Linked DNA regions of Homo sapiens. The protein of the gene in region 2 purifies or fractionates together with the protein of the main gene of each other region. This does not show direct contact. Each region holds a gene or a part of one and is shown on either strand. Other genes may lie near its edges.

Region 1 (3,500 bases), on a different chromosome or scaffold from region 2:
TTTAAATTAACACATGGAAATAAAAATGATTTATTTTGTTCTTGTTGTTTTTTTTAATAGTTATTTGGGATTTGATCATGCTGCAACATTATTTCACATCCGAGACAGCCCTGCTGATCCTGTGGAAAGGCCAATTTACCTTACTAACACTTTCAGTTTTGCGATCCTCATTCACGATGTGTTGCTACCAGAAGAAGCCAAAACAATGTTTAAAGTATGTCCAGGAGCCCTCATACTTTTAATTTTCCTGGTCTACCAACTAGGTGATGCTGACACTTTGTTTTTTTTCTCTTCTGTCATTTCTCAGGTTCACAACTTCAGCAAACCAGTCTTAATTCTTCCTAATGAATCAGGATACATTTTTACCCTGCTTTTTATGCCTTCCACATCATCCATGCACATTGATAACAACATTTTACTTATTACCAATGCTTCTAAATTTCATTTACCCGTGCGGGTATACACAGGCTTTTTAGATGTAAGTATATTATCCATCTTTAACATTTAAACTCCCTGCCCACCTTTAATGTTTTCAGATCTTATTAGGCAGTCGTGTTACATACGGTTTGCCATTATTTGTGCTCTGCAAATTGATCTAATTCTCCTAGTCAGTTTTTACCTTTCCAGGTAACTAGTTTTTACCTTTTCTGGCAGCTCTCTCTTGTGATACAGTTGACTTCTCTAGTTACAGTCTCTACTTAGATCTTTTCCACATTCTGCTTTCTCTTGGATATGCTTTTAAACTATTGTAATAATGGGGAATATAGAAAAGAACTAAATAGAAAAATGATAGGTAGAAAAAGAATAATACAAGGAAGGTGAAGAGGGATATACGTAGGGAAGAGATGATCAAAACCAAGAAATATCGGGACAAAGAAGAGAATCAGATAGTAAAGAAGAAAATAAGGTAGTAAAGACGCAAAGTTGGAAGATTATATATGACACAGAAGGAAACAATGAAGGTACTCCTGGTACAGAAAATAAGCAGGGGGAAAAATTCCAAACAAAGCTATCTTGAGAGTGATCAATGAAAGAAGCTTAGATAAGAGAGAAAACTGTTAGGAAAGATAAAAAGAAAGCTAGGACATCTAGAAATGTAGCCCTTTAAATAGTTGGCATCGATTAGAATTTTAGAGCTGGAGGGACCTTCAGTAATGTCTCGCTCCTGCTTCAGTTATTTTGTTTCAGTGATCATTGGTGATGCTTGCTGAGACCACATGCTTTTTGCCCGATCCCCTAGGGTTCCACTAAACCTCTCTTAGTAGTTTAGCTTCCTGCCTCTTTCATGTGCCCTCAGAGGAAGAATAGCAACTCAGCAGAAGCCATGGCTGTTTTCATTTCTGATTACTCAAAAGACTTTCGTCATACAAAGCCCTCAACTATGTCGTATAAATGTGTGGTTTTATGCATATATACAAAAGCATAGGAAAGCATAGAACTGTAATTTTTTTTTTTTTTAGATGGAGTCTCGCTGTGTTTCCCAAGCTGGAGTGCAGTGGTGCAATCTTGGCTTGCGGGTTCAAGCGATTCTCCTGCCTGAGCTCAGCCTTCCGAGTAGCTGGGATTATAGGTGCACACCACCATGCCCAGCTAATTTTGGGGGGAACTTTAATACATCTTTAATATAGTTACTTTCTCTTCATAATATTGTTAGATCAATGTGACTTTTTTTTAATCTGGTTCTTTTATATCTTTCCAGTACTTTGTATTGCCCCCCAAAATAGAGGAACGTTTCATAGATTTTGGAGTACTGAGTGCTACAGAAGCAAGTAATATTTTATTTGCAATTATAAACAGCAATCCAATTGAGGTAAAAACCTGTTTTTATTCTAAATCACATTTAAGGATTTTATGCTTGTGTTGTGATAATCATTTTCATATCTTTTTTTAAAGTTGGCTATAAAAAGTTGGCATATCATAGGAGACGGTTTATCAATAGAACTTGTAGCTGTGGAAAGAGGCAATAGAACTACAATAATTTCAAGCCTGCCAGAGTTTGAAAAATCCTCTTTATCAGATCAATCATCGGTAAGTAAACTTTCTATTGTCTCCTTAAAGTAAGATGGATGTCTAAACTGCAAGTGGAAGATCATTGCTATGCTACATGTATCACTATTATTTTTATGCAGTTCATAATAGTGTTGGTTACTTGCTATTAAAAGGACCTTATAGGTAATGTAATTCAACCCCCTATTTTTATGATGAGGGCACTGAAACCCAAAGGGGTTTAATTCTGCCTTGTCATAAAAAGTTCTATAACACACAAATTTTTAATTATCTTTTTGTAACACAAGTGTCATTACAGGAGAGATTCCCATGGGTACTAAACTAACCTTGTGTTCATTGAGTTTACTGGGAAAAAGAGATGGCCCTGAACATTGGTAGAAAATATTTTCAATTATGCAATAATACGTCTGTCCAGATACTGCCTCAGTATCAGTGAGGCAAACATTGTTTGATCACTGTGAGTCTGCCCACATATTTTTACCTGTCTAATAAACATGTTACAGTTGGTTGTCAGAGAGCGCTAAACAAGAGAAAACAAATTTATTAGTTTCAGCACTCACCAGTACTGAAAGGGGAACTTGGAGTTTATACCTACTGGGAAAAGAATTAGAATCACAATCTGTGAGAAGGAGCATCAGATAATCTCATCTGCAGGTTAGAATAGAATTTCTTGGGGCAGTTTTACAAAAGGAAAAGCAAGTGTCCTTATACACAGAGAGTGTTGACAAACACGTTTCCGTGGAATGCCATAGGTCTGGTGTTTTGTTATATCTGACCTCAGCTGCCCTGAAGATATGAATATTAACATTACAGAGTGACATCCACAGCTTGAAGCAGAGCCAGCTGTGTATACAATTGTGGCTCCAGTGTGCCTGAAAGGTTGGTGGAAGGCTGTGTCCCTCTGCTCCAGCCCCTTTGGCCATACAGGTCCATGGGTAAAGAGTGAGGAGCTTTATTAGCAAGAGGACCACACCCCTCCCTCTTTCAGGAACCAGCTTTTTCAGTGGCCCATGGAACAAGTGTAGTAGAGAAATATCAAGGGATGGACACTATTTTGAGATATTTGTACACAGTGATATGGTAATTCAGTGTCATACTGGTATATGTTAGGATTTGTTAGTCATTTTATCGCTACACCCTTCATGTCCATTTTAATAGGAAACTTCAACTAACAAGGCTAATGAATGATACCATTTCTACTATCTACAGGTAACATTAGCTTCAGGCTATTTTGCAGTCTTCAGAGTCAAACTTACTGCAAAAAAATTAGAGGGGATTCATGATGGAGCCATCCAGATCACAACAGACTATGAGGTAAGGACTTTATGGGGATTCATGGCAGTGGGGTTTTTCTGAATAAGTCAGTCCTTTCTTGTCTTTATGAAACCAAAGAATTAAGTTTACTCAGAGTTACAGTTTACCAGTTTCATACCTTAAAAACTGAGCTTTCGAGAATAGTTTATAGAATATTGATGTTCATAGGCTCATAGTTT
Region 2 (3,500 bases):
TTCTAAATGCCAAAATTCGGGCTGTGGTGCCTCCGCCTCACCTAAAGGATGAGGACCAATGCCTCGGAAACATTCTAAGAAGCCTAACAGGCCAGTCCCCATCCCCTTCTCCAGAAGCGCATCTCCCTCTTCCCGCACAGGCCCTGCGGCATTTCCCAGATGTGACAGGCTTGTTCCTCCCTCCGTAATGTCCTTCCACCTCTTTGTCTTGTATAAACTCCTCTTTAGTCCTTAAGGACTGAATAGGGACCCTCCCCAGGCTGAGTGAAGTCCTATGTGGGTCGTCATCGACACGCCTGTCTCCTGCACCAGAGGGAGAGTCCCCAGGAGGTCTCTCTTGTCCAGATCCTCTCCGTACTTCGGTGCAGACACTGGCACGTGCTGGGTGCCCAGCAAATGTGTTGAAGGAACGATTGGATGGGGTCCGGGTGGTGCGGGGTCGGGGAGTGCCTGGCCTGTGGGATCGGGGGAGCTCCAGTCCAGCTTGAGCTCCACCATGGACCAGCTCTGTGGTGTCGGACAAGGGTGCCCCTTGCTGAGCCCAGTTTCCTCATCTGTTAAATGGGGACAGTGATGCCACCTTTAGGGGCTGTTGCAGGATGGAAGGGGCAAAGTGCCCTAAATGAACAGTGCTCTCAGAGGTCTAGGATTCTGAATCAGGAACCCCTGTTTTGCAGGGTGCTTTCTTCTGCGACCTGGTACTCATCTACCTCATCAAAAAGAGAGAGTTTTACCGTGACAAGAAGTACGAGGAAGTGAGGTCAGTTCCGCTTCCAGGCCGGCGGCCCGAGGGCAGCCCTGTGGAGCACCCCCGTGGCTTCGAGCCTTTGCCCTGATGTGATATTGATGGCTGGGGTGGGAGGCAGGGGCTGGAGGGCCCGGGGAGGAGAAGTGTTCTGAGTACATGCTCTACAGAACCGGATTCGGCCTCGGCAGCAGTGGGAGGAGAGGGCGCTGTGGGCCACAGGGCGGGAGACGGAGTTCACAGGCTCCGCCTGATTCTGGACAAGTCCCAGGCCTCCCCGGGCCTCGGTTTCTCTATCTGGGAGATGAGAGAGTTGGTTTACCAATCGAGTGGTGTCTGCAGCACTTCTGTTTTGGGATTCTTGGACTTGGTGGTCCTGGTGCGCCGGGGCTGAGGGAAGCTGGAGTAGTAAAGGAAAGAAAAGCGGATATTTTCTTCCATGCAGAGGCTGTTTCCGGAGTTTCCTGGGCCCTGGGTTCGGTGGGGTGTGCGTGTTCACAGCGGCAGAGCACAGCGTGGGTGGGGAACCCTGATGACTGTGGGAGGGCGGGAAGGGGAAGGGGCTGTGGCTTCGGCCTTTGGGGAAGGCCTTCTGGAGAAGCAGGGATCAGAATGGGAATTGGGACAGACACCTTAGTACTCCCTCAGCACCCCCACAGCCTGGGACAGTGGGTGCAGGGTCTGCCTGGGTCATTCGCCTTACTGCACTCCAGCTATGGCCTGAACCCCAGCCCTGGGTTATAGCCGTGCGCCCTGACCCTGGCCACAGGCTGAACCCCAACCACAGTCCTGACTGTGCTGCTGAAGGAAGCAGGGTAGAGGAAGCCGGGTGGAGGACGCTGGGTGGAGGATGCAGGGTGGAGGACGCTGGGTGGAGGACGCAGGGTGGAGGATGCAGGGTGGAGGATGCAGGGTGGAGGACACTGGGTGGAGGATGCAGGGTGGAGGACGCTGGGTGGAGGACGCAGGGTGGAGGATGCAGGGTGGAGGATGCAGGGTGGAGGACGCTGGGTGGAGGATGCAGGGTGGAGGACACTGGGTGGAGGACTCAGGGTGGAGGATGCAGGGTGGAGGACGCTGGGTGGAGGATGCAGGGTGGAGGATGCAGGGTGGAGGATGCAGGGTGGAGGACACTGGGTGGAGGATGCAGGGTGGAGGACGCTGGGTGGAGGACGCAGGGTGGAGGATGCAGGGTGGAGGATGCAGGGTGGAGGACCCAGGATGGAGGAAGCAGGGTGGTGGCCTGCAGGGTGGAGGACCCAGGATGGAGGAAGCAGGGTGGTGGCCTGCAGGGTGGAGGACCCAGGATGGAGGAAGCAGGGTAGAGGAAGCCGGGTGGAGGAAGCAGGGTGGAGGACGCCGGGTGGAGGACGCTGGGTGGAGGACGCAGGGTGGAGGATGCAGGGTGGAGGACACTGGGTGGAGGATGCAGGGTGGAGGACACTGGGTGGAGGACTCAGGGTGGAGGATGCAGGGTGGAGGATGCAGGGTGGAGGACGCTGGGTGGAGGATGCAGGGTGGAGGATGCAGGGTGGAGGACGCAGGGTGGAGGACACTGGGTGGAGGACGCAGGGTGGAGGATGCAGGGTGGAGGATGCAGGGTGGAGGACACTGGGTGGAGGATGCAGGGTGGAGGACACTGGGTGGAGGATGCAGGGTGGAGGACGCTGGGTGGAGGACGCAGGGTGGAGGATGCAGGGTGGAGGATGCAGGGTGGAGGACGCAGGGTGGAGGATGCAGGGTGGAGGACACCGGATGGAGGACTCAGGGTGGAGGATGCAGGGTGGAGGATGCAGGGTGGAGGACGCTGGGTGGAGGACGTAGGATGGAGGAAGCCAGGTGGAGGATGCAGGGTGGAGGATGTAGGGTGGAGGGAGCTGGGTGGAGGACTCAGGGTGGAGGACGCCACGTGGAGGAAGCAGGGTGGAGGACTCAGGGTGGAGAGAGCAGGGTGGAGGATGCAGGGTGGAGGGAGCCGCATGGAGGAAGCAGGGTGGAGGACACCGGCTGGAGGAAGCAGGGTGGCGGCCTGCAGGGCGAGGGATTCTTCAAGGCCCACTCCGCCCGTCTAGGAGGGGAGGCACCCTGCAGGGCCGTCCCAGGTGAACAGCTTGTATCTTGTCCAGGGGCCTAGAAGACAGTTCCCAGGAGGCCGAGGACGAGGCATCGGGGCTGGGGCTATCTGAGCAGCTCACATCTGGGCCAGGGCTGCTGGGGATGCCGGAGCAGCAGGAGCTGCAGGAGCCACCCGAGGCGAAGCGTGGAAGCAGCAGTCAGAAGGGGAACGGATCTGTGTGCCCACAGCTCCTGGAGCCCCACAGGTGAGGCCACTGCTAGGCAGAGAGCCCGACAGCTGGGTCCTGCAGAGAGGGGTCCCCAGTTGGGGCTTCTCATGCCTGGCAGCTCCAGCGGACCCCTCTGCTCTGGTGTGAGCTGGCCACAAGGCAGGACATCTAGGAACTGGGAGAGCCTCTGTGGGAAGGGGCTGGTGCTTTACCCCGCAAGGTCCCCCTTAGCTCCCGAGACCCTGGATGGCCATGGGTGCCTGCTGTGCCATGCCGGCGCTCAGATGATAACAGCGCGCTGCTCCACAGCACTGACTCTCTGCCTGGAACCCCTCTGTACTCTCCGTATTTGTTAACTCATGTAAGCAACTGAATCAGATAGACACCGATCTTCCCCATTTTACAAATGAGGAAGCTGAGGCACAGAAAGGCTCGGTAATTTGCTCAAGTCACACAGCCGGTGAATGGCA
Region 3 (3,500 bases), on a different chromosome or scaffold from region 2:
ATTTTTAACTAATCTTTATTCTCATTTGTTCCTGATTTTCTTTGCTTTCCTTTCCCTGAAACTTTTTATCCTTACTTTCTGCCCTGGCATCACATATTTAGACCTCTATAACATTTGATCCCTTACAGGCTCACAGACTTCCCCAGAACAGTGAAAGAAAAAAATTATTTTACTTTTCTATCTAATAATTTTAAAGAGAAATGAACAGAAGTCAATGTCTACAGCAAGAAAAATAACTCAAACAGATTAATCATCTTTCTACTTATGTTTCCTGTGGTAAATGAAAACATTTCACATTTATGAACTTACATTATCTTTCTGGGAAAGCAGTTACTGAGTTTGGATCTTAACAATTATCAATACAGTAAAATAACCTAAAATTCAAACATATTATCATTTGCTGACAAGCACTAATGAAAGCATAAAACTTTAGTTCAAAAAATGTCAATATTAACAATAGGAATATAAAAGAGGGTTTTAATTTACATGTAGTTTTTCTCTGATGAAGACATCAATCGTTACTGACTCTTCAGACTTACTTTGATGTCCTCCCCAAAACCCTTTAAGAAACAAGCCAAACTAATTTGAGGTCACAATTATGCATATTTTCCTGTGTACTTAACTCGCTTATTCACAAATATGAATCCTGGTACAGATAGGAGTTCTGATTCCATTAAACAGGACAGAACAGCAGAGACCAATTCTGAGACTTGATTATAGAGCTTGGGTTTCTCAAACAAAGATAGGAGAAGAGCTTCTACTTAAATGTATTATGTTTTTTCCTAAGAGAAATATCTGAGTTGTATTAACTGGTAAAGTTATTTATTTATTACTTTAAAAGTCAAGAAGGGCCGGGTGCAGTGGCTGATGCCTGTAATCCCACCACTTTGGAGGCCAAAGCAGGCAGATCACTTGAGGTCAAGAGTTCGAGACCAGCCTGACCAACATGGTAAAACCCTGTCTGCACTAAAAATACAAAAACTAGTCGGGCACAGTGGCATTGGCCTGTAATCTCAGCTACTTGGGAAGCTGAGGCAGGAGAATTGCTTGAATCTGGGAGGCAGAGGTTGCACTGAGCCCAGATCGTGCGCCACTATACTCCAGCCTGGGTGACAGAGTGAGACTCTGTCTCAAAAACAAAAAAGTCAGGAAGTAACACATACCTACTTTTGCAAAATAAGTATGTATTACCAATTTTATGAATTCTCATTCAGCTCAAACTTCAATTCCAAAGGCTGATTTTATTCTGTGTAACTAACTTCTAATTTCTATTATGAAACCCAAATAGAAATACCAAACGGAGAGTTGTAAAATATAAACAACAGTATACTTAATGGGTATCAGTGCCCTAAAATCAAGGTACAACTTACATGCTTAAAGTGTCAATATTAGAATGCTGTACATTCAGTTCAGACTTGACATTTACATTCTCATTAAGCTACACCTATTTGCTTAGTTTCGGGTTTCCATAAAAGATGTTCTCCATTATCCAACCTGGTAGATAAAATGATGCTATGAACTAATGAAGTAAAACATATAAATACTAAACAAGTACTAAATGATCTAACCAAACATTTACTAACTCTTTTTATATCCCACACCACTCACAGAAACTTTGAACACATACATTTACTGTAGAAACTTCCTCCTCCTCTGTTTCTTCCTGTGGAATATCATCGACAGGAGAGCTACCCTGAAACACATCTACTTCTTCACTTGAATCATTTTCCTTAGTAGCTGCTTGTTTGGAGCGTCCTACACGGCTAGAGTAAAACACATGTAAAACACAATGAACGTTCCAATCTTTCAGTAGATTACCTCGTTAGAAGAAATGTTTCACGTATTTCATCGTCATATCATCTTTACCCTCAGTTACTTTATGAGACAAGAACATTTCTTTAATATTCTGAATCCTAAACCAGCATTTAATCATAGAATGTTACATATTATCTACCAAGTAACAACAAAAAAATGTGACTGAGAACATACCATAACCTAAAGTCTGCTCTTCCTTTCATCTTTCCTAACACAGTAAAAGGCATCTATGTCTACTGAGCTGCTCAAAGCAGAAAGGAATTCTGCTTTGAATATAGTGTACCTGTCTTTGTCTGGCCTTATAGATTCTTATGGAGATCTCAAATCCATTCACTTCTCTCCACATCTCCATTGCTACCACCTAATTCAAACCATTCCCATCTCTTGCCTCTTCTCTTTACAAAGTTATCTTTTAAAAGTACAAGAACAGATGATGTTACTGCTCCCTACTGAGCTGAGAATAATTTTGTAAACCTCCTTAACAAAGTATACAAGGAACAGTAGATGGTCCTTGCCTACCTGTCCACTCTCATCTCTTTCTGCTCCCCAACTCCCCACAACTACAATCCAACAAACCCTTGCCTTCCTTTAGCTTTCTGATTTTGCCAAGTTATTTTTCACTTCAGAAACTTCAAATATAGTGTTCATGCCACCTGTTCTCTGCCTGTCTAGCCCCTACTATTCTCAAGATATCAACTCATTGTTACTTTTAAAGAAAAAACTTCCTCACTCCATTAGATGGTGGAAAACAAGAACCACGAGCCCATGAAAACAAGTACCACGTCTGTTTTGTGTCCCTAGCACCTAGTACTCTCTGAAACACAGGAGGCATCAAAAAATATGTAATAGAACCATCTAATCAAATGGATCCCTCTTGATAAATCTTTATTTTTTAAAATTAGAAACATAACATCACTTCTATAAGCAATCCAAAATATGTATTTTTTTAACTCACGCTCGAACCAAACAATTTTTTTACTTGGTTTGGTTTTTCGAGATTAATGAAACTATAGAAATAACATGAAACATAATGACAATCTTTTTCAATTTCACTGAGGTCAGAACAAGAAAAAGAAACAAATCCTAACATATGTTAGTATACTAGCTCTAGAAAGAGCTTCCCAGTGAAAGGAAGATAGGCTTCCAAGACAGACTACAGAATCTTCTTCCATATCAATTTTTTTTTTTTTTTAAGAAATACTTGTTTGGTTTAGAACATTCATAGGACTTGTGTAATTTTAGGAGAGCACAATAATCATTTAAACCCTGAATTTTATGATGTCCAAATATAAACAAACTAAAATTATGAGGTTTGTTATTTCCTTGTTACATCATTCATGTGTATTTTATTAAATAAAGGATTCCTTAAGAATCCTTTGTTTAGAAATAGTGATTTGGTTGAATCCAAACACATTTATAAAGCTGCCACAAAAATGTACTTACCTTTACTTTTAACCTGATAGAAAAATTACATGGAAGATGGCATGAAGTACTGGCTAGACACCCAGGCAACTTTTCCTCTTCCTGTGGAATACACAGGAATAGGAAAATCTCTAAGATAATTGAGTATTTAATGACAGTACATTGGCAACTCTGAAAAGTCGAGCCATGATGTAATTATGTATGGGTGGGATTACTCTCAGAAAAAGTGTTAAATTTCTGACTAATAGAAGACATGCTACTCT
Region 4 (3,500 bases), on a different chromosome or scaffold from region 2:
TAAAATCTGAGGTATATTTTGAAAACAGAATCAACAAGGTTAGCCAGTGGACTGAATTTTCCCTGAGAACAGGAGAAAGGTATGAAGGAAGCCCCTAAGTTTTTGGTCTGAGCAACTGGAAAGATAGCTTTATTATTTCCTGAAATGAGGAAGACTGGGAAGAATAAATTTGGAACAGCGTTAAGGAGTTTGGTTTTGGCCTTTTGTTCTAGAGCGCCCTTTAGACATCTAAGTGGAAATGTCAAGTAAGCTGTTGAATAAAGGAGTCTGGAGTTCAGGGCAAAGGTGACGGGTAATTCAACAGGAAAAGGGCAGTCTTCTCAAGATATGAAGCTGAAGAACTGGATATCCGTGTAAATATGAACTTTGATCCCTACCTCACACTACAAAGAAAATTTAACTTGAAATGAATCATAGACCTAATTGTAAAGCCTAAAACTATAAAATATCCAGGAGACGTCACAGGAAAAGATCTTTATATATTTGAGAGCCAACTATTCAAAGATTAAGCCATAGAAAACAAAAACAAACAGTTTATTGAGAACACTTGAAATCTAACAATAGAAATCAACATTGAAAAGACTGGCAAACTTAAGGGCAATTTTTAAATGCTAAGATAAAAAGGCAAAGAGAGAAAATATTTTTAACACATGAGAGATGGAGTTAAAGAGTTTATCATACAAAGGGTTTGCACAAAATCTAAAAAACAAAATTCTAAAATGAACAAAATGTGTATACAAACTTTTACTTTAAAAATACAATTACAAGGTTGGGCATAAGGGCTCACACCTGTAATCCCAGCACTTTGGGAGGTCAAGGCGGGCGGATCACTTGAGGTCAGGAGTTTGAGACCAGCCTGGCCAACATGTTTCTATTAAAATACAACCCTGTTTCTACTAAAAGTACAAAAATTAGCCGGGCATGGTGGTATGCACCTGAAATCCCAACTACTCCAGAGTCTGAGGCACGAGAAGAGCTTGAACCTGGGTGGCGAAGCTTGCAGTGAGCTGAGATCATGTCACTGCACTACAGCCTGGGTGACAGAGCAAGATTTTGTCTCAAAAAAAAAAAAGAAAAGAAAAAAGGAAAAAAGAAAAACAAAAACAACCACAAGATAAAACTTTACGTTACAACGGAGAGGTGGTATTTTTAAGCAAGCGAAACTTGTTTTATAAATGTTAATTCAGAGGTAGTATAACACGACTAGAGTATTTGCCCTGTGGCCAATCTCCCTGAGTTCAAAACCAAGCACCAAGCTCTGTGACTTCCCATAAATCCCTTACTCTGTACATTTAACTCTTAAGAGTTTCCTCATCTATCAAAGGGGAAATTCCATCTCACAGGGTTGTTATGAGGATTAAATTAGTTACTACATGTAAGATGCTTAGTATTGTGCCTGGCTCTAGTAAACAATCAAAAAAATTGGCAGTTATTTCAGTTGTTCAATTCTAATAAAGACACAGGTGGAATTAATATTTTTAGACCTTATTCATGGCAATATATACTGGCCCAACCATTTTAGTGGGTTGTTTGGTATTTTGTGCCAGAGCCATCAAAATATTCATTCTCTTATTGACTTAGTAATTCCACTGCTAACAATCTTTAAGGCCTTTGCAGAAAACCATCATTGATAATAGCTAAGTACTGTTAGCAACCTAAATATGCAGCAACAGAAAAATAGGTTGTGGCATATCAATTCATTGGTCCTTTATACAACCATTTAAATTGAGGGCTTTAAAATTAGGTAGGAATAAGTTTTTTAGAGATCACCTGTACAGTAGAGTTGAAACATTATGAAATATTTGTATAGAAGACATGCTTATAAGGAAAAATTTCCAAAAGTTGGGAAGAGGGTGCTGATTAAGGAACATTTTTGGGGCCGGGTGTGGTGGTGCATGCCTGTAATCCCATCACTTTTGGAGGCTGAGATGGGAGGATTGCTTGAGCTCGGGTGTTCAAGACCAGCCTTGGCAACATGGTGAAACCCCATCTCTACAAAAAAATACAAAATTCAGCCATACGCAGTGGTGCATGCCTGTAGTCCCAGCTACTAGGGAGGCTGAGGTGGGTGCACTACTTGAGCCTAGGAGGTGGAGGCTGCAGTGAGCCGTGACCACGCCACTGCACTCCAGCCTGGGCAACAGAGCAAGAACCTGTCTCAAAGAAAAAAAAAAGGTATATTTTTGGGGTACCCACCCTGATCCATTAATTTATCTTTTTATTCTTATTGTAGCACCATGGTATTTAACAACTAAAATTTTAGTATGATTTTAAAATATCAAAAGGTAACTGATCACTAAAGGAGGTCTTTTTTCTTCAGAAGAATACTACCTAAGTCCCTTGGCTGAAAACAGTAAAAAGGGAATCATGAAAAGTTTCAAGGGAATACGGCTGCATTGCGCTTTCCATTGCCCACTTTATCACATCTGTTCCCACTGTACCAGCACCTGGTACACAGTAAGCACTAGATAAATATTTGATGTACTTCTCTGGCAATGTGACCTGTTACATAATATTGAGATTGTAAACTTCTGCTTAAAATCCAGTTGTGAATTTCTGTATTTCAAAAGAAAACAGGCAATATTTTCTTCTCATCCTTAAAAAATCAGTTTTCAGACACCATAAATAAACCTCAACCATTCATGCACATCCCTTCTGAAGGTTTCTTTGAATACAAAACCTATAAACATTTAGACATTAGGTATAAAATCAATTTAATTGTATATTTATTATAACTGAATTTCATGAAACCTAAAATGACAGCAATTATAACATCCATCCTGATATCAGAGATGTTAAAATATGAAAAACCAAAGTTGTATCTTCAAAACCATGAACTACAAAGCACTGATGTAACTCCATAAGCTGCATGTGAGAGGTTTGGGGCATGAAAATCAATGTATCTATTTATTCTTATCAAAACCACCTTTGAACTGTCCTCTGGCTTGAAGGGTATAAATATTTCTATAAATTAAAGTTGTAAAACAGTGTAATATTAAGCAGTGTGCATGCTGTGATGAGTAGGATAAAATACAAACCAGATGTTTCAGACAGACATAAAAAAGCGGCAGTATATTTTTACAGCTTATGTTATTCTTATTTAAATGTAAGTTTCCAAAAAAAAAAAAACTTAACTGTGTAATTATAAATTTCACTCAAAATTTAAAGAACACATCAAAATACAACAAAAGCTTTTTCACACTCTCTTGAAATAATGCAAACGCTACTGTGAAAGACAAAACATGACATTTTTTATGCTTTCCCTAGAAAAATACAAATTGTAATCTAAATTTGAGTTACCCTACATAGTATACGGAACTATGAAATCCCTTAAAACCTCACCTCAGAGCTATTGATGGCCAAAGCTTGAAGTAGCAGCTTAGTGGCATCAAGATGAAGGCCGTAATGAATCAAAAGGTTGGCCAAGTTGACAAGAGGAACATCTTGGTATTGAAGTGGAGCTAAATTCAAAGCCCTCTGAAGACAGGCAATAGCAAAAG

What was found. The genes of interacting proteins can lie anywhere in the genome.
Region 1: the proteins of P2RX5 (region 2) and TMEM131 purify together in Homo sapiens (affinity purification with mass spectrometry; 2 studies listed by BioGRID and IntAct, with this or other methods). This does not show direct contact.
Region 3: the proteins of P2RX5 (region 2) and PDS5B purify together in Homo sapiens (affinity purification with mass spectrometry; 2 studies listed by BioGRID and IntAct, with this or other methods). This does not show direct contact.
Region 4: the proteins of P2RX5 (region 2) and TTC17 purify together in Homo sapiens (affinity purification with mass spectrometry; 2 studies listed by BioGRID and IntAct, with this or other methods). This does not show direct contact.

The regions. Positions count from the first base shown.
Region 1 is NC_000002.12:97,810,949-97,814,448, reverse strand, and holds part of TMEM131 (transmembrane protein 131 precursor), read left to right. Parts: intron 1-60; coding exon 61-214; intron 215-307; coding exon 308-478; intron 479-1,699; coding exon 1,700-1,810; intron 1,811-1,893; coding exon 1,894-2,028; intron 2,029-3,216; coding exon 3,217-3,321; intron 3,322-3,500.
Region 2 is NC_000017.11:3,679,156-3,682,655, reverse strand, and holds part of P2RX5 (P2X purinoceptor 5), read left to right. Parts: intron 1-677; coding exon 678-760; intron 761-2,871; coding exon 2,872-3,066; intron 3,067-3,500.
Region 3 is NC_000013.11:32,771,452-32,774,951, reverse strand, and holds part of PDS5B (sister chromatid cohesion protein PDS5 homolog B), read right to left. Parts: intron 1,764-3,500; coding exon 1,628-1,763; intron 1-1,627. UniProt on the Homo sapiens protein: Regulator of sister chromatid cohesion in mitosis which may stabilize cohesin complex association with chromatin. May couple sister chromatid cohesion during mitosis to DNA replication.
Region 4 is NC_000011.10:43,407,420-43,410,919, reverse strand, and holds part of TTC17 (tetratricopeptide repeat protein 17 isoform 1 precursor), read right to left. Parts: coding exon 3,343-3,500; intron 1-3,342. UniProt on the Homo sapiens protein: Plays a role in primary ciliogenesis by modulating actin polymerization.